Linked DNA regions of Homo sapiens: all the other regions are linked to region 1. The links come from fine-mapping of genetic effects on gene expression. A gene starts in region 1. Each other region holds a variant in brackets. All regions are shown on one strand. Distances are between the middles of the regions.

Region 1 (7,586 bases):
TCTGGAGCACCCATTTAGAGAAAGCCAGAAGCTTCCATTCGAGGTCGGGGAACATAGCTTTATCCTGGCTTTTCCTGGCCCATTTCCAGAACCCAGAAAACCAAGAAGGACTCTTTGGAAATTCCAACACCTGTGACCCACTGATTTGGGGTATCACAGACTCCCTACTCATGGTAGGATGAGGAACCAGACAGACAAGCTGGCTATGCAGTATTTATTAGAATGATTCTATATCAATAATTATGTTCACATTCAAGTAAGAAATATGTAACCATTTAAATTTGGCAATAGCCAGGCATGGCAGCTCACACCTATAATCCCAACACTTTGGGAAGCTAAGGTGGAGGACTGCTTGAGCCCAGAAGTTCAAGACCAACCTGGGCAAAATGGCAAGATCTCATCTCTACAAAAAATTTAAAATTAGCCAGGTGTGGTGGCACGTGCCAGTGGTCCCTGAAACTCAAGAGGCTGAGGGGAGGATCGCTTGAGCCCAGAAGGTTGAGGCTGCAGTAAGCCGTGATCACACCACTGCACTCCAGCTTGGGTGACAGAATGAGACCCTGTCCCCACCCAAAATATATATATATACACACAGAAACCAAACTCCTGGAGAAGTTTTGGCCTTTTTTTTTTTTTTTTTTTTGGAGACAGAGTCTCACTCTGTGGCCCAGGCTGGAGTGCAGTGGTGCAATTTTGGCTCACTGCAACCTCCGCCTCCCGGGTTCAAGCAAGTATTCTGCCTCAGCCTCCCATGTAGCTGGGATTACAGGTGCCTGCCACCACACCCAGGTAATTTTTCTATTTTTAGTAGAGACAGGGTTTCACTGTGTTAGCCAGACTGGTCTCGAACTCCTGACCTCGTGATCTGCCCGCCTCAGCTCCCAAAGTGCTGGGATTACAAGCATGAGCCACCGTGCCCAGCCAGTTTTGGCCAATATTTAAAAAGCTATGTGCTAGAATAACTAATTGAGTATAACTAATAAAGGGGACTATGGCCTTGTACAAACTTTTAAGGGATGTGTGTCTGGATAAAGATAAAATAAAAAAATATAAGGCTAACCACCACCTTCCTATTTTCACAGAGAAACTTTGTCTTCGTGTATGAAACCTCACTACTAAAAGTGTAGTTCAGTAACATCAGCATCACCTGCAAATCAGAAATGCATTCAGGTCCCATCCTAGATCTACCAAATCAGAATCAGCATTTCAACAAGACCCCTGGGTGACTTACATGCACATTCAAGTTTGAGAAGCACTGGTGTAGAATACTTTAAGGGTGCACTGTACGGCAGTACACAGATAAAGTATCAAGCAGCCAAAGAAAGAGACAAAGTATCTGTTCACTTTCAGTATACTATATTTTATTAGGTACTGCTCAGACAGACCTCCAGTGATTTTTATAAATTTGGTACTTCCTAATGGCCACATCATCTAACTGTGGGATCTATTTCATTTCTGGAAATAACACAACTTAGTTCTAGGGCTTTCATGCACATGAAATATAAAACAGCTTAGTTGTTCTGAAAACATGACAATGGTTAATTTTATTCAAGTCCCAACACTGAGTTCAGAGCACTTCTCCATAGGCCCCATTAATCTCTCCAGGTTTCTGGGAGTATCATTAAATCCCTCGGCATCCTTAAGAAGCAGGTGCTTAGCAAACATCCAGTTTCCAAATGAGAGTCAGAGGGGCTTGATCCTGAAAGTGTAGTATTTTCCTGCCTTGTCCTACTGGTATAGCTTCTTGGACCTAAAATCTCTCTCCTGCTGAGGCCTCATGCAGCTGCACACTCAAGTACTTCCCAAAAGGAAGAAAGGTCAGAGGTATCATTATCCCCAAGCACTTGGAATTCCAGCTGTGGAGAAATTAATCTGGTTGGGGGTTCAGGCTGAGAAGCCCTGAATAAGATCTGTAAAGGCAGAAGGAAACACAAAAGAAAGAACTATTGAGGCTCTTAAGAGATAGGAGGTCCCAGATATTTGCAGATTTTAATGTGAGGATTGGGGGTAAAGATTGACAAGAGGTTGGCCGGGCTTGGTGGCTCACGCCTGTAATCCCAGCACTTTGGGAGGCGGAGGCGGGTGGATCACGAGGTCAGGAGATCGAGACCACAGTGAAACCCCGTCTCTACTAAAAACAAAAAAATTAGACGGGCGCGGTGTGGTGGGTGCCTGTAGTCCCAGCTGCTCGGGAGGCTGAGGCAGGAGAATGTCGTGAACCCGGGAGGCGGAGCTTGCACTGAGCCGAGATCGCGCCACTGCACTCCAGCCTGGGCGACAGAGCGAGACTCTGTCTCAAAAAAAAAAAAAGAAGATTGACAAGAGGATGATTGGGAGAGAAAAATATCCATTTCCCCACCGACACCCCAGGGACAAGAACAAAAAGAGTATCCAAGGGATTCCTCCAAACGACATCTTTTCTTCATAAAAGATAGTAAGAAAGCCAATATAGGGAAGAAGTTTATGGGCTAGAAGCAGTGCTGGAAAAATCTGAGAGTTTTGTTTGTTTTTGTTTTCCAGCACAAGGAGATAAAGCAAAGGAGAAAACAGTATGCACCTAAACAGAATCTTAGGTCTTCTAGAAGTAAACCACCAGGAGGATTCAGAGTCCTGTGATTAACCAAAGAAATGGTTTCCACTTTGAATCCAGCGCTGGGGGCCCAGGCAGTCCTAGACTTGAGGCCACCTCCAGCACAAGGAAAATCTTTATAGCCACTAGGTAAACAGAACAATTCCAAAGAAAGACAGAAACCAGAAAAATGTTTGGGGATTGGGCAAGCCAAGAGAGAAGAGATCCTGCTAGCGGAAAGATAAAAGATAGGCCTATCAAAAACAATGTGCTGGTAGCCCTTTAGGAGAGGAATCCTTCCCTGGGAGGAGAGGAGAATTCAGGAGGTGTGACTCTGGGAAGTGTGCTCAGAAGAAAAGCCCGCAGAAGCACAGAGAAAAGTGCCGTGCTGAACAAAGATACGCACTCGCCAGAGGAAGAGGAAATGGGTGCACTGACCAGACTGGGGAAAGCACCTCAAGGGGAGTGTGGCTCCAAAAAGGGAAGGAAACTGAGGAATGAAAATGTCTTGGATGACAGAAAAGCTAAACAGGGTAGGAAGGCATGCTCAAAACCACAGACCACTCGCCACCTGGAAATGAGAGGACTCACAAAAAGGTGTGCCCCCCAAATTTAAGAAGCATCTGGAAAGTGGCTGCACTCTGAGAGTTGTATAACTAAAAGGGGTTCACCTCGTACATTTGGGGGGCACAAGAAACAAATATACTCCCAGATATGAAAATGAGTCTCCTTCAGGAAATAAGGTAGTTTGATTTGGGGAACACGTGAAAAGTGTGTAACCCCAATAATACAGTCTCGGGAGAAGGCAGTGAATTCCCTTATTTGTGAAACTGGAAATAAGTACCCATAAACTTCAAAATTTGGACATTGTTTTCGGCCCAACCTCAGGTTTGAAGGGCTGAGGAAAGGAAGTGGCCCCTAAATGTAAGAAATTCCAGAAGGCATGCTGTCAGATTTGGGACCTGGAAAAGGGGAATTCTTCCTTGGAGTAGAGGGGATACAAGAAAGTATCCCAAAACTTTAGCTAATGGACCCCAGATCTGAGGACCCGATAACAGGGTGAACCTCTAAATTGGAACGGAAATGCAGAATCAAATTGGAGGCCCGAAAAAAGGAATGTGCTCCCACTTTGGGGGCTGACGGAAGAGGGTACGCCCTAAATTTGGGGGGGGGAGGGCTTTTAGAAATTTAGATAAAATTCCAGAGCTAGAGCTTAAGAAAGGGGGTGTGCCGCCCAGTTTTCAAAACTATAGAGAAAAGGGACACTCCCATATTTGGGGTCTTGAGAAAGGAATGTGCTCCCCAGAATAGGATAAAAAAAGCCAATTTTAAAAAACATATTCCCAAAGCGCAAGGCAATAGCAGAGGCTGCTGATGAGGCTCTAGGTGCCCACACAGCTCAGGCTCGGGCCCTAGGGCTTACCCGCACCCCCAACACGGCCCGCTCCGCGCCCCGGGCCCGCACCCCACGGCCCAGCCCCCTCGGGCGGCGCTGATTGGCGGCAGCCGCCGCCACTCTTGCGGGTAGCCCCGGGGATTGGGCACCGCTCGCACGCCCGCCACGCTCTCAGCAGCAGTCCCAGGGCCTCCCTCCAGGCTGGGCGAGCGGGGCCAGGCGGGGAGCGGGGCCGGGCAGGGGACCGAAGCAGCGGTGGCGTCCGTCGCCGTCCCCGCCCGCACGGCGCGCGCGCAGCGCGGGCCCGGCCCAACCCGGCCCGGCCGGCCGGCTTCGCCTGGCCGCGAGCTCACCTCACGGCCCCACTCCGGCTGCGCCGCTCCAGGACCAACCGACAGAAGGACTCTGCGTGCTCTGCACCACGTGACCCCCGGGACGCGCCCAGCGTATGCCCCGCCCCCCACACACACGCATCATCGCCACCACCGAGTGACGTAAGGTCCCAGCTGCCCCGCCCCCTGCCCCGTCTGCCCGATCACTGTGGCAACGGCCTGCGCAGGCCACGCCCACTACCCTGACGCGCGGGAAACAGGCCCGCGCCCTAGCAGGAACACGAAGTCCCCACTCACTCGTAATCACTGAGATCACCGAAGCCGGGGAATGGACGCTATCCATCACCCGTTAATTTTGCCACCTAAATGCGTCTCAAAGCTTCCCATTTCTCCATCGAAGCGACCACCATCTCTCTCCAAGATGAAGATGGTTTCCACCCTATTACTCTTCGCCGTTCTAATCCATTCTTCGTACACCGGCAGAGAGGTCTTTTCAAAACGCCATCCCCTGCTCAAAGCTCGTTTCCCTCCCTACTCCGGATTAAGATCTAACTCTTCACCTAGACTATCTACCAGGCTCTTCAAAGTCTGGACCTGACCTGCTGCTTTCTTATCCTCACGAATCCAGCTCCCCCACATTCTCAGTGTCCTTCAACTCCGCTAACAATCCAGGTTCTTCTCATCTCAGAGCCTTTGCACTCATTTCTCCCCCACTTTATCATTAACTCCTAGAAAGGTTTCCAATTGCTGCTAAGGATAAGGAGCTGTATTTTCTCTGGGGACGAAGGTCGGAGTTGAAGCCACCCCAAAAGAATATGAGACCAGGAGCAGTGGCTCACGCCTGTAATCCCAACACTATGAGAGGCTGAGGTGGGTAGATCACTTGAGCTCAGGAGTTCGAGACCAGCCTGGGCAACATAGCTAGACCCCCGTCTCTCCAAGAAATACAACAATTAGCCAGGCGTGAACGTGCGCACCTGTGGTCCCAGCTCAACCTTCTGAGTAGCTGGGACTGCAGGCCCATGCCACCATGCCTAGCTAATTTTTTTTTTTTTTTGAGACACGGTCTCACTGTGTCACCCAGGCTGGAGTGCAGTGGCGCAGTCTCGGCTCCTCATAACCTCCACCTCCTAGGCCCAAGCAATTCTCCCACCTCAGTCTCCCAGATAGCTGGAACCACAGGTGTGCACCTGGCTAATTTTTGCATTTTTTTGTAGAGACGCAGTTTCACGATGTTGCCCAGGCTGGTCTTGAATTCCTGGGCTCAAGCAGTCCACCCACCTCAGCCTCCCAGAGTGCTGGAATTAACACCGTACTTGGCCACTTTTTTTTTTTTTTTTTGAGATAGAGTCTCGCTCTGTAGCCCAGACGGGAGTGCAGTGGTGCGATCTTGGCTCACTGCAACCTCTGCCTCCCGGGTTCAAGCAATTCTTTGCCTCAGCCTCCCAAGTAGCTGGGATTACAGGCGCACGCCGCCACGCCCAGCTAATTTTTTATATTTTTTTTAGTAGAGACGGGTTTTCACCATCTTGGCCAGGCTGGTCTTGAACTCCTGACCTCATGATCCGCGCGCCTCGGCCTCCTAAAATACTGCGATTACAAGCGTGAGCCACCGTGCCCGGCCGAGTTTTTTTTTTTTTTTTTTTAGAGACAGGGTCTCACTTTGTTGACCAGGCTGGTCTCAAACTCCTTGGCTCAAGTGATCCTCCTGCCTCAGCCTCCAGAAATGCTGGAATTACAGGCCTCAGCCAGCAAATCCAGCCTGAGGGGTGCTTTTTAAACCAGGGCTGGAAACTAAGGAGGGTATTGCCTCAGTTGAGGTAGTCAGGGCAAAGAGCAGCCCTTAGGTAGAGACACTGTGGAACCAGGGACAAAAGCTTCAGCTACACTTGCTTGGGCAGTACATGTATTCTATTAAAATTGTAACATGGCTGGGCGCGGTGGCTCACGCATGTAATCCCAGCACTTTGGGAGGCCAAGACGGGCAGATTACCTGAGGTGAGGAGTTCGAGACCAGCCTGGCCAACATGGTGAAACCCTCTCTCTACTAAAAATGCAAAAATTAGCCAGGTGTGGTGGTGCATGCCTGTAGTCCCAGCTACTTGAGAGGCTGAGGCAGGAGAATGACTTGAACCCTGGAGGCAGAGGTTGCAGTGAGCCGAGATAGCACCACTGCACTCTAGCCTGGGTGATAGAGCAAGATTCCATCTCAAAAAATAATAATAAAATAAAATAAAATTGTAACAATACAGAAAAGATTCACATGACCCCTGCATAAGGATAAGCATGCAAATTCATGATACATTTCATACTTTTTAAAAAATCAGCAATTTGAGAATCAGTGCCACTCAGTCAAGTAAGTGCTCACATATAGGAAGGGCCTTCCCAAGATCCTCTGGGTTTATGTTTATTAATATGAAATTGCTCAGATGTCAGTGGCTATGGTAGCACACAAAGAACTTTTTGCCCCCCAACCACAATAATGCCAAGAACTCCAGACTCTGTAGCCCCGTATAAATATAGCATGTTTCTTTACTTATTCAACCTGCATTTACCGAGAGTCAAATTCAAGATGGGCACCAAACACTCAGAGCACAATGAGACTTAGGCCCTGCTCTCGAGGAGCTCACAGACTGGTGAAGTAATCATGGCAAGCAAAAGAGAAATATGTTACAAGGGCCCCTGAGCTACAACAGGAGTGCAGGCTTGGAAAACAAACAGGCACAAGGACAGCTCCACCAAGAAAGAGCAACAACAGCTGCTGCCCCCAGCAACACTGCGCACCACTGCTGTGATTCAATCTTAGTATCCCTTTGTCTTTGAGTCACTCACTCAAGAGGCAAGGTCTTGGCCAGCAGCCACTGTCGATTGGCCAATCTCAGGTCACATGGATGAGTCCAGCCTGCCAGGGAAAGAAGAGAGGAATGACCTGCCCCTAAGGGTACTCCCCAAGATGGGAAGTGAGGGTTGGAAGGAGACTGACACTGATCAGGGAAAAATAACTGAATACAGATGAGAAAAAAGTACCTTGTGAGCTAAGCTCTTTCTGATGTAAAAACTTGCAGAAATTTGACTTACCAGCTTCTTCTGAACTGAATATTAATGGAATGCTAGCCAGAGAGCTCCAGTTTACAAGATTTTGGTCTAAAGTCCACTGACTTTAGACCAGAAGTAACATCTACCTTCTGCCTTAAGATCCTCCCCAGCATCTTACTAATACTGTATTTCAAAACTGTAGTCCCAGCCCATAAGCTGAGAGCTCCACAATGAAACCCTGTGTGCATCCATA
Region 2 (7,586 bases), 130 kb before region 1:
TGTGACCTTTTGTGTCTGGTTTCTTTCATTTAGCATGATGTTTTCAAGGATATCAGGATTTTTAAAACTTTCCAAGTGATTCTGATATGGAATCAAGATATCCACAAAGCAGGTGTGAGGCAGGGTAGACAATCAGATTCCATTTTAACTAAGCACTTGTGTGCAAGGAAACCACAAATATCTCATTTAATCCTTACAACAACTTGTGTGTATATCATTCCCATTTTACAGGCCGGGAAACTGAAGCTCAGAGAGGTGAAATCACCCACCTGACATCACATAGGTATTTAAAAGCAAATTGGTCTGACTCTCCAGCACCATGTCTCCTCTGCAACCCAGGCCCCTCTCCCAAATTAGCACTTGGTAACCATCAGAAAGGAAGAGTGGGCTGTGCCTACTGGCTGGCAAGCCTGGAATCTATAGGCAGAGTTGATCTACTGGCTAGAGAACATAGGACTTAAGGGTATTTGAGCTCCTTAACTTTTAAAATACCCTGCAACTAGAAAGAAAGTCAACAAACATGAAAGCTGGAGAGAACTTAGACCAATTTGTAAAAGCACTCATTTTTAAAACCAAAAACCCAAGGCCCAAAGACAGCAGACTGGCAAAACATGGTCAGATGCCTTCTGAATTTCAAAAAAGCTATCAGTCATTTTTACTTTTCATTGATCCTGAGAACAGGGTCTTCCCCAAACATAAAAACAAAACTCATTTTTACACAGTTTGACTACCACCGTATTATTAGCCATGGTTTCAATTCATTTAGGCAACAGATACCATGCATATACTATGTTCCAGGCACATTCTAGGGAGGAGGGATATTGCAATGAACAAAGACAGATAACACCCCCTGTCCCTCACAGAGCTACATTCTATTCAGTTGGTGCAAAAGAATTGCTGTTTTTGCCACTGAAAGTCACAGCAAAAACCACAATTACTTTTGCACCAACCTAAAAAGCTGATGGGGCAGCAAACTATGAATAGGAGGGAATTTCCTCAACTGGATAAAGAACTTCTTTGCAGCCAACTTCATACTTAATGGTAAGAAATTGGATGCTTTCCCCTTAAGATCAGGAACAAAGCAAGGTGCCTCTCTCTCTACTCCTATTCAACATTTTACTGGAAATCTTAGCGAGTGGAATAAGCCAGAAAAGGAAATAAAAGCTCTACAGATTGAAATGGAAGAAATAACACTATCTTTGTTTGCAGATGATCTGTCTATGTAGAATATCCCAAAGAATTGATCAAAACAAAGACTGCCAGAACAGCACTTACAGCAAGGTTACAAGACACAAAGTTAATATACAACAATCTATTGCTTTTCTATATGCCAGCAATGAATAACTGGAATTTGAAATAAAGAAATAGCAAGGAGATCTGTATGGCTCCAATGGAACTGAAATTAGAATTAGGTTGAGTAAGGGAAAGAAGCAGATGGAGGCTAGCAGCAGAACATGATGAAGGGCCCTGTGAGGAAGTTGGCTTTTACTATGAGTGATTTAGGGAGCCACTGGAAGGATCTCAGCAAAGGAGGGATATTATCTGTTGTACCTTCACCCACACTCCTCCACAACACACACACAGACTGCTCCCTGATCCAGTTTTTATTTGTAAATTCAGGTTTTAGTGACCTCCAACTAAAGTAATTATACCCATCAGCTTAGTGAAATGCTAACAGAATTTATCTTGTCAGCAGCAGAACTGCCTGAAGCAGCAACATAATCTAGGTCCTAAATCCTTGAGACAGAGAGGGCAAGATGTAGAGGAAAACTGCCCAATGCTAGGGCATACCTGGTTATCTGGCTAAAGATAGTGGTCATTTGTAAACTCCAGTGGCAGAACTTGCAGGCCCTAGAAAAGACACAGAGAATTGCCCAGCAAGGACTGAGCTAAGGCAGGTGAGTCCCTGAGGAACAGGAGTAGACAAGGTGACAACAGGCAGAAATCCCCAGACTGCCAGGTGCACAGGAAGTCTCCTGCAGGGAGGCACTCCTATCTCCCACTCCAGGGCCTGGGACAGGCACTCTTCCCTGGAATCATAAAAGACAGCAGAGCCTCAAAGTGAGAGTATGGGCTTCACAACAGATTCAAATCATGGCTCCACCACCTGCTAGAGCTGTAAATATTGGTTCAAATTAATCCATCTCATCTGCACCTTAGTTTCTAATCTATAAATTAGGCATTATAGATGCCTAATATGCCAACATTAGAGCATCCAAATTCTTAAAACAAGTACTTCCAGACCTAAAGAAAGACTTAGTCACATAATTTTAGTGGGGGACTTCAACACCCCTCTGACACAGCATTAGAAAGATCATCGAGGCAAAAAACAAAGAAATACTGGACTTAAATCCAGCAATGACAAACTATACATTCCACCCATCTGCAAATGGCAAATAATCTAAAATTGACCACATGCTTGGCCATAAACCAAGTATCAGTGAATTCAAATCATTGAAATCATATCAACCACACTCTGAGACCACAGTGGAATAACTGCATAAATTAGGCATAACAGCACCCACCTCAGAGGGTTTGTTCTGATAACTAAATAAGACAATACAAGTAACGAACTTGGAACAGCGCCCAGCACATGAAGTACTCAAATGTCAGCTGTTATTATCTTGCTTGCAATATTCTTTCCCTGGAAAGCAGTGCTGGTCGCTGGTCTGCTGTCAACTCTCTCTCTGGACAGCTTTACCAATTGTTCCATGACCCACAGAGCATGTACTGGCTGTGGAGCTTCCTCCCGGCTGCCCTGACTAGGTTGGACAAAGAGTGACTTCCTGCCAGGCTCTGGATCAGAGAGCAGCTTGTCACCTAAGCAGGGTGAGGCTTTCCTCCAGGATGGCCACTTGTCCTCTCCCCAAGCTGCAGGTGTCCATCAGGAGAAATACCAGAGGCCCTCTTGCTCCTCCATACAGCTGACTCTTGAGTATTCCATCCAGTCACTGATTTATGAGAGCAGAGGGACAACTGTCATCAGACCGCCGCTTCCAGGAGGGAAAAGAATAGCATCACCACCACCTATGGGGTAACTGCTTGTACACCACAGAGCTCAGCCAC[G/A]AGGCTGGGACAAGCACTGACCAGAGCATGTTCTGATCTGCACAAGGGGGTGGTAGCTCAAGGGCAGACAGAAGCAGATATGGGCTTGGAGGGGTTCTCTCTGCCTATCAGAGAAGTGGTAGTCAGGGTCTGCCACTGTCATTTCACCATGTCTACCTTCCCAATCTCATCTCCTATCAGTCCCCTACCATGAGTCCCACCCAGATACCAACCCAGGATGGCCCTCCAATAACCCCTCCCTCCTCAAGCCCTGCATTCTTCTTAGCTCATGTGGTAAAGGCTGCAGTGCCCTTCCCAACACTATTTCTCCACTTCTTCCATAGGAAGAGTTCATGTTCCATGTTCCCTTGAGAGAGGGGTGGCAGATGTTCTGCCTATCGGATACAAGAAGTGATGTGTGGCACTTCTGGGTTGTGCCTTAAAAGAAAGGAGCATACTTTCCCTTCACTTCCCTTCCCAGCAGCTGAAAGATAAGCAAGGCAGGGAGCCATTTTGGACACCAAAGAAGAGCAGCACCTGGGGCAACAACGGGGAGAAAGCAAGGCCCAGGAACCTTCAGAGCCTGGTGGAACAACGGGGAGAAAGCAAGGCCCAGGGACCTTCAGATCCTGGTGGAAAAACGGGGAGAAAGCAAGGCCCAGGGACCTTTAGAGCCTGGTGGAACAATGGGGAGAAAGCAAGGCCCGGGGACCTTCAGAGCCTGAGCACAGCCACCATGGGTAACTTGCAGTTCATCCTGAGAGGGAAATAAACTTCTCTGATTTTAGCCAGCTATGTTGTTCTCTCTGTTATGGCACTATAATCCATATTCTAATTAAGCTCACACTGCTCTTTTTGTTTTAAGGGGAGGAGGACATGTTCCTGCGATAAGGCCAGTGTAGTCCCATGAGAAAAGGTGTGGATGGCAATGAAGAGGTGCCCACTCCAGTGCCCCAAGGCTCACTTTGGCCTAAAACTGAGGTTTACCCAGGGTGAGAGCACGACTCAAACAGATGTAGCAATAAGTAATAATAAGCACAGGAGAGGCCCTCTTTGACACTAGAAAATTCTTTCTGAGCCTAACCTGTATTCAGGACTGAACTCACCTAAGTAGAAAGAAACCCAAGGGAGCCTGAGCTGGCTACTGGAAGAGAATTTATTAAGTGACTCTGGTATACTGAGAAACCTCATTTGGAAAAGCAAATCTAAACTGACCTTCTAAATTCATTTTGCAACTAAAGGCTTGGCTGAGAGCAGAAGAACCATATGAGTGACAGGATTACAGAAGGCTGGCATCAGAAGGGGCACCTTAGGGACAGATGATTGGTTTATTCCCCTTGATGCCTCTGAACCCTTGCTATGCCTATTCCTGGCACAGGGATGCTTTTCCTCTTCCCGGCTTCTGGTCCAATTCCTATCTAGCCTCACTCCTTAAGGCGTGGGTTAGTCTGCTCAGGCTGTTATAACAAAACATTATGTTATATGTGGCTTAAACAACAGATATTTCTTTCTCACAGTTCTGGAGGTTGGAAACTACAAGATCAAGGTGCCAGACTATTTGGTTCCCAGTGAGGCCCCTCTTCCCAGTTTGCAGATGGCCATCTTCTTGCTACATCCTCACATGGGGGGATAGGGGGAGCTCTGATCTCTTCCTATAATGCCACTAATCCCATCATGAAGGCCCCAACCTCATGACATCATTTAAACTTAATTATTGCCAAATACCATCACACTGAGGGTTAGGACTTCAACAGATGAATTTTAGGGAGGAAGGCAGGACACAATTCAATTCACAGCAAGGCCTAACTCAAATGTCACCTTCTCCTCTCAACAGTCCAGCTCCTACCCTACAGGCAAAATCTGAATCTGTGTTCCCACAGCACTTTACATGTTCCTAACACAGAACTTAGCTTTCTCACGTTGTTTATGAGCTTTTCTCCCCACATGAAAGGGCCTGGTCTCATGCATACCTAGCTCTACATCATCACTTTAGAAATGAGGAGATCAGCCAGGCACGGTGGCTCATCTCTGTAATCCCAGCACTTTGGGAGGCCAAGGCAGGCAGATCATCTGAGGTCGGGAGTTTGAGACCAGCCTGACCAACACGGAGAAGCCCAGTCTCTACTAAAAATACAAAATTAGCCAGGCATGGTGGTGCACGCCTGTAATCCCAGCTACTCGGGAGGCTGAGGCAGGAGAATCATTTGAATCCGGGAGGCGGAGGTTGTGGTGAGCCAAGATCGCACTATTGCACTCCAGCCTGGGCAACAAGAGTGAAACTTCATCTCAAACAAACAAAAAAAAAGAAAGAGAAAGAAAGAAAAGAAAGGAAGGAAGGAAGGAAGGAAGGAAGGAAGGAAGGAGAAAAGAAATCAGATCTGTGAAGAGACCTGCCTGAGATCACAAAGGGAACAGTGGCAGGTTGCTACTAAGATCAGTCTACGGACTCTCAGACCAGAACTACTACTTCTGCCCAACCTTACCAACCCAGATATTGAGGAGTCCAAAGCCAAGAAATCTCTGCAGGGTACTTTCGAGTCCCAGTGGTTTTGCTGGAAGCCCCAGGAATCTCCATCAGAGAAATCCATGAGAACCCAAGTTCGGGACCACTTGAGGCCAGGAGTTCAAGACCAGCCTGGACAACATGGCAAAACCCCATCTGTACTAAAAATACAAAAATTAGCTGGGTGTGGTGGTGAATGCCTGTAATACCAGCTATTTGGGAGGCTGAGGCAGGAGAATTGCTTGAACCCCGAAGGCAGAGGTTGCAGTGAGCCAAGATCACGCCACTGCACTCCAGGCTGGGCAACAGAGTGAGATTCTGTCTCAAAAAAAAAAAAAAAAAAAAAAAAATCAGAGCATTCAGCATAAAGGGGGTACTTTTTTACAGTTACTATTATCACGCAGCACAAATCCTATAATATTCTGTTTTTCACTTAAGCAGAATGTCAAGTTCACACTGCCTGTAAACTAAAACACAGGCTGCCTGGTATCAGAGTCCCACTGTGAAACGTCTCCCAGTGAAACGTCTCCCCAACTGAACTCCCCACACTGTCTGAAATTCCACCCTGATAAGAGCATTCTCAGAAGCCTGAGGTGAAACCACAATACTATTAAGTTGGTTCTATTCTTTCAAATTTTTGGTTATCAGATTAGTCAAGTATCCAGTAAAACCCTGACAAACTGGGGCAAGGCTTTGATGGGAGAAAGGTAAGGGGTGATGCCTGGAACAGGGGTGCCTTCTGGAGAGCTGCAGCAGAATAAGGCAGCCACACTACAGAATCTTCAGCATACACTACTATGTTCACTCTCATTGATAGCCAGCTACGTGATAAACACTGAACATGTCTACTGAGCCCCATCCACATATGATAATACCGAGGCTCTTGCTGGTTAGTGGCACAGTCAGGGCTGGTGGCCAGGCTTTCAATTTTCCATCTGGATCACAGCAAGATGGATGGTCTAGTTCCTTCGGTCTGGTAACTGCTAAACGTATCAGCAATGAGGCATGGGAGATACATTTGGGTAATCGCCATGTTGTCTAGGAGGCTGTGTCCACTTGACATGTGGATGGGGGTACATTCCTTCCTGGCTGCACAAATCCTGCCCTCACTGAGAGGGTACAGAAATGATCAGACTGTGCCCTCACTGAGAGGGTACAGAAATGATCAAACAGTGGGTGAGTGGTCTGTGTGGCACATTCTGCTGCTAAATTGATCAATTTTACAAAGGACCACTTTAAACAAATTAAAACATAAGGACTTAAAAAACCTTTTGGCAACAAGTTAAAGCATAGGGATTTAAAAGACTCTTGTTTCCCTTAAAGCATTTTATAATTGTCCAACCCTACTAGTCTAGTGAGTATACAGCAGGCCTTATTTTTAAAAACTGGTAAACAAAAATCTCCAATTCACCAAGAAATTTCCAAATCCCATTGAAAAGGATCCTTCAGTATTAACAGAGAGAATAAAATCCCAGGTCAGTATAATGCATGAGACCCAAGAGGGAGACATGAAAGTAGAAAATCAATTACTCAAAAAAAAAAAAAAAAAAGAAAGGATAGGAAAGGAAAGGAAAGGAAACGAAAATCACTCAAAAAAAAAAAAAAAGAAAAAAGAAAAGAAAATCAGTCACTCAGGCTTCTTAATTATACCAAAATGGCAATGTCTTGTCTATTGGTTTTGTAGCTCATCAGTGGTTGGCTGAGTTCAGAACTCAGATCTCTGACTGCCTGGGTAAATGCTTTCACTGAGATAAAGAGACTGTGTATTCAGAGTTTATTATAGGCCAGACATTTTACAAAGCATTTCCCCTTGGGTCATTTAGTGTAACAAAGTTATGAGGTAGGTAGTACTATTATCTCTATTTCACAGATGGGAAAATTGAAGTTTCGCAAGTTCTCTGCCCAAGGTCCTGGAGCAAGCAAGCGGTAGAGCCTGTATTCAAACTCAGGTGAGCTGACACATATTACTCAACATAAACCAAGTCATGCAAGTACAGTTAACCAAGAATCCCAAAGCCAGGTGGTAGATCAGCATCTG
Region 3 (7,586 bases), 770 kb before region 1:
AAAACAGATGGAGAATGTGCATTGGGCCAGCGGGGGAGATCACGAAGGCAGGAGTCTTGGGGCATGGGCTGTTCTGGCCTAGCCTTTGCGGCGACAATAAGGAGGTGGCCTGGCTTTTATAGTTCTGGTGACAGAACCTGGGAGATGGGTGATGTCTGTTCTGGCCCTTAGGGGCAGAGGCACTGAATGCCTGGGCCCTGTTCCACTTGCATGCAGAGTGGTGGTAGGGGGCGCCACGGACCTGAGGCTTCCTCGTCGAAGCAGGCAAAGGCGTTGCGAATCACATCCTCGGGGTCCGTGCCGTTCAGCTTCTCCCCAAACATGGTGAGGAACATGGTGAAGTTGATGGGCCCCGGGGCCTCGCTCATCATGCCCTCCAGGTATTCGTCTGTGGGGTTCTTCCCTGTGGCAGGTGGGGTGTTCCAGCCTGTGGTCCTGGGCCCTCTGTCCCCAGCTGGGACAACTTGCACCCCCGTCCCCCACCCCTGCCCTTCACCGCTCCGTGTGAGACGGGAGGTAGTGGGTTTTGTGAACTGGAAAGCATGGCTCTAGCGCAGCCACAGCAGTGGGCGCCCGGAGTCCCTGGCTGCTCCCACCAGTTTCCTCCTGTGGCCTGGATGTCAGCAGCCGGCAGTGCTCACTAAAGTGTAATAAGAACAACCCTCTGCAGACTGCTCGCTGTGGCTGGTCGACCACGTGCCTTATTGCATTTAACTTTCACCACCCTGTGAAGTCAGCATTCTTACCCACTTCACAGGTATGGAAGCTGAGGCACAGAGAGGCCAGGTGACTTGTCCAGGGTCAGACAGCAAGTAAGGAGGAGACTTGAGTAGACCTGGCATTTGAACCCAGGCAGCCTAACTCCAAAGTCCAGACACAGTGCTTTGCTGTCAGACAGGCCTGGGTTTGGATCCCAGCTGTGCACCTTGGTTTTCCCCATCTCTTAGGGGAATTGTGAAGACAGTAGTTGCAAAAGGCTCATAACAATGACTGGCACAGGCCTATGGACTGGAATCAACTGCTGGGTTTCTATTGCAGCCCCACTACTTGGTAGCTGTGTGACCTTGGGTAAATTACTTAACCTCTCTGAGCCTCAGTTTCCTTGTTTGTAAAGTGGGAATAATTGTATCTGTTCAATAGGATTGCTTTGAGATTTAAGATAATACCTGCAGGGCTTCTTCTTATTATTATATTTGCTGCTCTTGTTTTTAACTTGAAGATAAGGGTGTGACTCACCTGCAGACCCACGGATATGAGCTACAAACACAGTGCATGTTTTTCTGGGTGGACACCCAGGGCTGTCATGAAGTCTCAGGGGTTCAGGGGCCTGGGTGCAGGGTGTGGCCTTGGAAATAGGAAGTTTTCATGTCCCTGAGCCTCACATACCCTGCTGTGTCCCCCTGGGATGGCCATGGAAGCTGAGGCCCAAGAGGAGCTGTGACGCCAGGACACTGGGGTACTTAAGGCCAGCCCCTTCTCTCACCAGGCCTCAGTCCTTCCACGAAGCTGGGAAAGCCCCAGATAAGAACCCTGGAGTTGGCCAGGCGTGGTAGCTCACACCTGTAATCCCAGTACTTTGGGAGGCCAAGATGGGCTCTGGAGTTTGAGACCAGCCTGGCCAACATGGCGAAACCCTGTCTCTACTAAAAATACAAAAATTAGCCGGGCATGGTGGCGCACGTCTGTAATCCCAGCTACTGGGGAGGCTGAGGCAGGAGAATCTCTTGAACCTGGGAGACGGAGGTTGCAGTGAGCCGAGATGGTGCCACTCCAGCCTGGGCAACAGAGTGAGATTTTGTCTCGGGGGGAAAAAAAAAGAACCCTGGAGTTTACTTCCTGCCAGGTGACCTCCTGGGGGAGGGAGCCTTCAAGCGAGCCTGGCCAGAAGCGGGGAGAGGTTTGGTGCTCAGGGCCGGGGGCAGCGTGCTGTCAGTTCTCCCACTCAGGTTTGCCTGGTTCTCCTGCTCAGTGCCTCGTGGGGAAATGTCAGGGTCATGGCCCCATTTCACAGGAAGAGGAAAGTGCACAGGGCCCTACCAGGGACTGACTCTCTGGCCTCAAAGCTCGAGGCTTGACTGTCACGGGGCTGTGTCCTCTGGTCCTGGACTCTCCCTCCCCCAGGCAGTGTCTGGTCTGGATGCTGTCACTCGGCATGAGGGGTACGCGGGAACTGGGCTGAGAGTGGCTGGCTGTGGCCAGCACTTTGGGAGGGATGTTGGGGCAGGCCCGTGGGTTGGGGCATGGTCTGTGGAGGCCTTGCCTCTGGGCCTGTGTTTCCCCATCTGCAGTAGAGAATTGGACTTGATTTTTGTACCCTGTTAGTTCTAAGGTCCTGATCCTGAGGAAGTCACTGGGACCAGAGAGGCTATGAGAGCCTGAGATGGGTGACCTCTGAAGGAGGGGAGCTGGTCTGGCCGCCCCTCTAGGCCTCAGTTTCCCCATCTGTGCAGTGGGCAGCCTGCAGTTCACACTTTCATTTAGATGCTGACCTCTTTCTTTCCTTTCTTTCTGTTTTGAGACGGAGTCTTGCTCTGTCGCCCAGGCTGGAGTGCAGTGGCGTGATCTTGGCTCACTGCAAACTCCGCCTCCCAGGTTCACACCATTCTCCTGCCTCAGCCTCCCGAGTAGCTGGCGCCCGCCACCACGCCCAGCTAATTTTTGTATTTTTAGTAGAGACGGGGTTTCACCATGTTAGCCAGGATGATCTCGATCTTCTGACCTCGTGATCCGCCCGCCTTGGCCTCCCAAAATGCTGGGATTACAGGCGTGAGCCAC[A/C]GCGCCTGGCCAGCTGACCCCTTTCTTTAAATGAAATGATACCTGGCAGCCCAGTGCACAAATCTGCCTAAGACAGGCCCACTGTGGAGTCAGCCTGTCTACGTTCAGACCCTGTGGTGGACCTGCTTTGTGCTTCAGTTTCCCTGTTTTTTTTTTTTTTTTTGAGATGGAGTCTCGCTCTGTTGCCCAGGCTGGAGTGCAGTGGGGCGATCTCGGCTCACTGCAACCTCCGCTTTCCGGGTTCACGCCATTCTCCTGCCTCAGCCTCCCAAGTAGCTGGGACTACAGGCGCCCGCCACCACGCTCGGCTAATTTTTGGTATTTTTAGTAGAGTCAGGGTTTCACCGTGTTAGCCAGGATGGTCTCGATCTCCTGACCTATTGATCCGCCCGCCTTGGCCTCCCAAAGTGCTGGGATTACAGGCGTGAGCCACCGCGCCCGGCCCAGTTTCCCTGTTGAATGGACTAAGTTAATGGCAACTATTCTCTAAGGTGGACACCACGCGTCTCACTACACAGGAGGTGCCCTGTAAATGATTGGCAGAGCCTGCCTGGCCTCATCCATCTCACCCCTGTCCCTGTCCCAGCTCACCCAGCGAGGCCAGCATGTCGTGCAGGTCCTCCTTGTCAATGAAGCCATCACGGTTCTGGTCAATCATGTTGAAAGCCTCCTTAAACTCCTGGATCTGGGACTGGTCAAACATTGCGAAGACATTGGATGTGGCCCGCTGTGGCCGCTTCTTGGTGGTCTTGGCTTTGGCCCGCTTGCTGGACATCTTGGCTTCTGGTGGGTGGGGCTTCCCTGCAGGAAGGGGTGGGGGTTGGGTGGCCCTGTGACTCTGGGCCAGGGAATCTTCCTGCCTCCCCCAGACTGGCTTTTAGCACTTCGGCCTGGCATTCAAGGCTGCCCACGGATTTGGGGCTCCCACCACCCAGTTCTTCACAAAAGCAGACAAGTGTGGCTGTGTGATTCTGAACAACTTCCTCTACCTCTCTGAGCCCGAGAGTCTTCATCTGGGACTGGAGACATGAGGAGTGCCCAGCAGTAGGGATTAACTGACTCAGTGCCCGAGAGCTCCTGGAACAGTGCCGGGCATGGAATCAGCTATTTTGGCTGTGACTGTTTGGGTAAAACACTTAGGATTGGGCTTGGTGCCAACCATTACCATGCTTTATCTCCTTTAATCCTTAATAGCATTTACACTGTCCCTCTCTCTTTCCAAGTGACAAGGTGGGTCCACTCGTGGGAGTCAGTGAGGGCTCTCCTGGGCTGCCATCCAGGCTCCCTGGCCCTGCAGGAAGGAGCTGGATCAGCATTCCTGCATTCCTGCCGTTCCTCACTCTCCCACTCCATCCCTCTGCTGCCCGCCTGAGGTTCTAGGAGGCTCTGGGCAGTCAAACCCCCGCCTGTCCACCTCAGGGAGCTTGACCAGCCCCCCAGTGGTGAGTGGTCACAGACTGATCCTGGGTCCCACTCCTTGTTCTCACTCCCCACTGCTTATCGGGGTGTGAGGCTTGCTTGGGCTGAGAACCCCAGCTTCTTCACCCTTGCTTAGACCTGGCTTCTTAGCCTCCAGCCGGCCTCTTCTGTCCCATACAGACCCTGACCTACACCTATCATTGTGAAGCCCTTGAAGGTTCCTGCCGCCCCTCAGAGCAAGTCTGGGTCCCTCATCCTGGCATTCAAGGCCCTGTGTGAGTCCCTCCTGGCCTCTCTGACAGCCCTCGTGGTGTCCCTCTTGTGACCCACAATCCTACCCTTCTGACCTCTGCAGTTCCCTGGACACTCCCAGGCTTTCCTCTGTGGTCCCCTCCTCCCCTGTGCTCTTTCTTCTCCAGCCCAGTTCTTGAGACCGCCCCCCTCTCCTAGGGAGCTGTTCCCTGTACCCTTGCTTCCACAGTAAACACTTAAAGATCTCTCTCCCTTGTGGGCCAGCATAGATCCCCCAGTTTACACCAATCCCAGGCCATAGTTGGGCTAACAGATGCTTGTTTGATGAATGACTATATGAAGGCAACTACGGCCAGTCTGCTGCTTCTACTGTACAGATGGGGAAACTGAGACCAGGCCTGGGACTGTTTCCCTGAATGCTTGCCACAGCTTGTGGGGATATGCGCCTGAAGACCCAGTGCCTCCTTCCCTCGGCTGGGGCAGTGGGCCTGGCTGAGGTTCCAGGACTGCGGCCCCTCTTCCCTCTGCCCAAACCCCCGGGCCCAGGGCCTCCAGGAAGCCTCCTCTGCCTGTTGTTCACCCCAAGCTGTGTGGTTGCAACTTGAGCTGTTTCCAGGCCTTCCTCCCATGACTCTGTTGAAGTCATTCTCGGTCCTTGGCCTTTGAGATCATCAACCCTGGACTGGGATCCCGGCCAGCCCCAGCTGGTCCCCAGGGCCATCACTGCCTGTAGTCATGAGACAGTGGTTGCCCGTGTCCCACGGACCGACACACCCAGCCCTCAGTGTTTCTTGCATGGTTCAGGAAGGTAGACAGAATTCCTTCTCACCCATGACCTAGTTGGGAGTGCCATTGTCCCCAGATGCCGGCCCCCTCCTCTCCCGTGCTTTAGAGGGGCCTAGTCCTTCCCTGAGTCCAGTGTTCTCGGGAACTTTGACTCCTGGTGCCCACAGAAGGCTGCATGCAGAGAGGCAGTGCACTGTGCCCAACAGAGGCTGTGATGGCCATCACTGTCCCCACCACACTCTATGAAGCTCTAGGGCAGGCATGGCCAGGCCACCCACAGCTGGGTCTGAGCCCAGCTGGGCCCCTCTGCCTTCATGGCCACCCGGTCTGCACTCTCTGCTGTGGTGTGGCTGGGAGCACTGTACTTAAGGGCTTGCACAAGGCCGCCATGTCCACCCCAGCAATTGTGGGAAGTGGTGAGCGGAGGCAGGGGTGCCCCCATGGTGCAGCTAGGAAAAGAGGCCCCAGAAGGGGAGTGGAGTGCCCATGAGAGGGGGAGGGGCCACCTGGAAGACAGGATTCCTGGGCTAGGTTTGGGTCAGTGGAGAGCAAACTTGGCTGCTGGTGCCCTCGAGGCTTGAACAAAACAGGGAGCCCCAGTCCTCAGGCGGGCCTGTGGCAGTGGAGTGGGAAAGGGCTCTGTGTATCCAGAGGCGCCTTCTAGAACTGGTGGAGGGGCGAGGGGCAGGCATGGGTGGGGCCTTTAGTTCTGAGGCCATCGCTTCCCCCTTCAGGTGCCCTAGACACCAGGGGTCAGCACTGATACTTGGCCTGGATGTGACTGGATGCCATGTCCCCCATCCTGGTGTCCAGATTCCCACCATAACAGAAAAGGCTGGGCTGAAGCCAGCACAGGGCAGTGCCCCCATGACCTCCAGCCCCTGGAGCTGGGCAGGCCAGATGCCTCCTTCTCAGTGCACCTCATCTGAGTCTCCTCCTTAGAGCAGCTGGAGGGCTGGGAAGAGCAGGGATCAGGTTCTCCCAGCCACTAGTCCTCGTCCTGCCCCCTAGGGGTGAGTCCATCAGGGCCCTCCGCAGACCTTCCCCACCCACAGGCGAGATGACCCAGAGAGGGGAAGGCCCGGGTCCCTGCATACAGCACTGGCTGTGTCGGAAGGGCCCCCTGGTCTCGGTCCCTTTCCCCTGGCCCAGGGTGTAGGGATGGGAGATGGGGAGGGGACACAGATGCTGTGGGGGCGTGGAGTCCCACAGGGCTGTTTCTCCATCTGTGACACACATGCCTTTACTGGGCCAGGGGGAACTGACGACTGCAACCCTCTCCCCAGCACCCTTGTACCCGGGCTCCCCAGCCCCCCCCGGAGCTCTGGGCTTGGCATCTCCAGCTCCTCAGCAAAGGGGCAGGGCCTGGACGATGGCCTTCCCTTGCCGCAGGACCACTGCTTCTCAGAGGCCAGAACAGCCTTCCTGCTGCCCGGCCCCTGGCCAGAGTCCCTGTCGGCCCCCAGCAAACTCGCTGCCCCAGCTCACCCCTCAGTCCGTGCCCAACAGACCCTACCACGTCCCAGTCCGTGGGGCCCGCCTTTGCCCCCCGTGACAGCCGGGTCGGGCCCGGGCCACCTCTCATCTCCAGCCCTGGGCCGTTAGGCCTGTCCTCAAGACCCCCGGGGCCCCGGATCCCACCTGGTGCGGAGAAGGCGCTTGGGCTCGCTGGGTGCGTGGAACTGGGCCGGCCGTCGGGTCTGGACTCCAGGCGGGGGCGGGGCGTGGCGGCCGGGCCTTACAAGGCAGAAGAATGTGCGCGGGGCGGGGCCGCGGGCGGGGTGCGGGGGCCCTCGGCTGCCGTCCGGCCTTATTTGGCCTCGACCCACGGGCTGGCAGGCGGGGGCGCTCTGGGGTGAGCCCCCCTTCCTTGCTGTGCCAGCCCGGGCTGCACAGAGGGCCTTGTAGGGAGGGGAGGTGATGGGGTGAGCAGGCAATGGGAGAGGGGGTGTGGGGGTTCGCTCTGGGCCACCCCTTCCCCTCCAGAGAGGCAAACGGAATGTCCAGGGCCGCTTCCCCAGAGGCCTCCCACTTGTATGGGCCGTGGGAGTGCAGCTTCCCCTGACGGGCAACGGCTCTCGACGTGGGGAGGGCAGAGGCGGTGGGTGGGGGGGCTCCCAGGGACCCCTACGCCCGGTGACTCGCTCTGTCCACATCAGCGGTCGCCCGCCAGAGCGGGGTTGAAGGAACCACTCGGGAAGCACTGGTTTCGTGGAGGGAAACACGATGAACAAGTAGCTCCGCGGCCTGGGGCCTCAAAGGAGAAGGGGACCTGGGGGGAGCGTGGGCTGTTCCGCAGGGTGCTCTGGGCAGTGACATTGGGCAGACAGGAGGTGCAGGGGTGCGCCCCGCCG

Alleles and levels. Positions count from the first base shown, and alleles are read on the strand shown. Sizes are in standard deviations (SD) of each study's normalised expression. Not every link is listed here.
As copies of C replace A in region 3, the expression in tibial artery of the gene that starts at base 4,383 in region 1 goes up (moderate effect, 0.41 SD a copy in GTEx).

What was found. PIP is the estimated chance that this variant, and not a neighbour inherited with it, causes the effect.
Region 2: its variant is fine-mapped to the expression of PHF20 in whole blood (TOPMed, PIP above 0.99).
Region 3: its variant is fine-mapped to the expression of PHF20 in tibial artery (GTEx, PIP 0.90).

What each region holds. Positions count from the first base shown.
Region 1 is chr20:35,768,812-35,776,397 of GRCh38, reverse strand. PHF20 (PHD finger protein 20) reads right to left here and starts at 4,383. Exons shown (of 18, transcript NM_016436.5): 1 at 4,319-4,383. It also overlaps the pseudogene LOC124904972. RefSeq lists silencers at 2,637-2,931, 3,936-4,315.
Region 2 is chr20:35,902,590-35,910,175 of GRCh38, reverse strand. The region is part of intron 10 of PHF20 (PHD finger protein 20); the gene reads right to left. Among named protein-coding and RNA genes, the nearest start is that of SCAND1, 48 kb to the left of the region's middle. RefSeq lists an enhancer at 3,053-3,553. The variant G/A (reference allele first, on the strand shown) is at 3,067.
Region 3 is chr20:36,540,849-36,548,434 of GRCh38, reverse strand. It overlaps MYL9 (myosin light chain 9), which reads right to left and starts at 6,916. Exons shown (of 4, transcript NM_006097.5): 1 at 6,874-6,916; 2 at 3,367-3,576; 3 at 242-403. The coding sequence starts at 3,550. All of the region lies in intron 2 of DLGAP4-AS1 (DLGAP4 antisense RNA 1), which reads left to right. RefSeq lists enhancers at 1-879, 3,500-4,153, 4,154-4,807, 4,808-5,461, 5,462-6,115 and a silencer at 6,896-7,095. The variant A/C (reference allele first, on the strand shown) is at 2,776.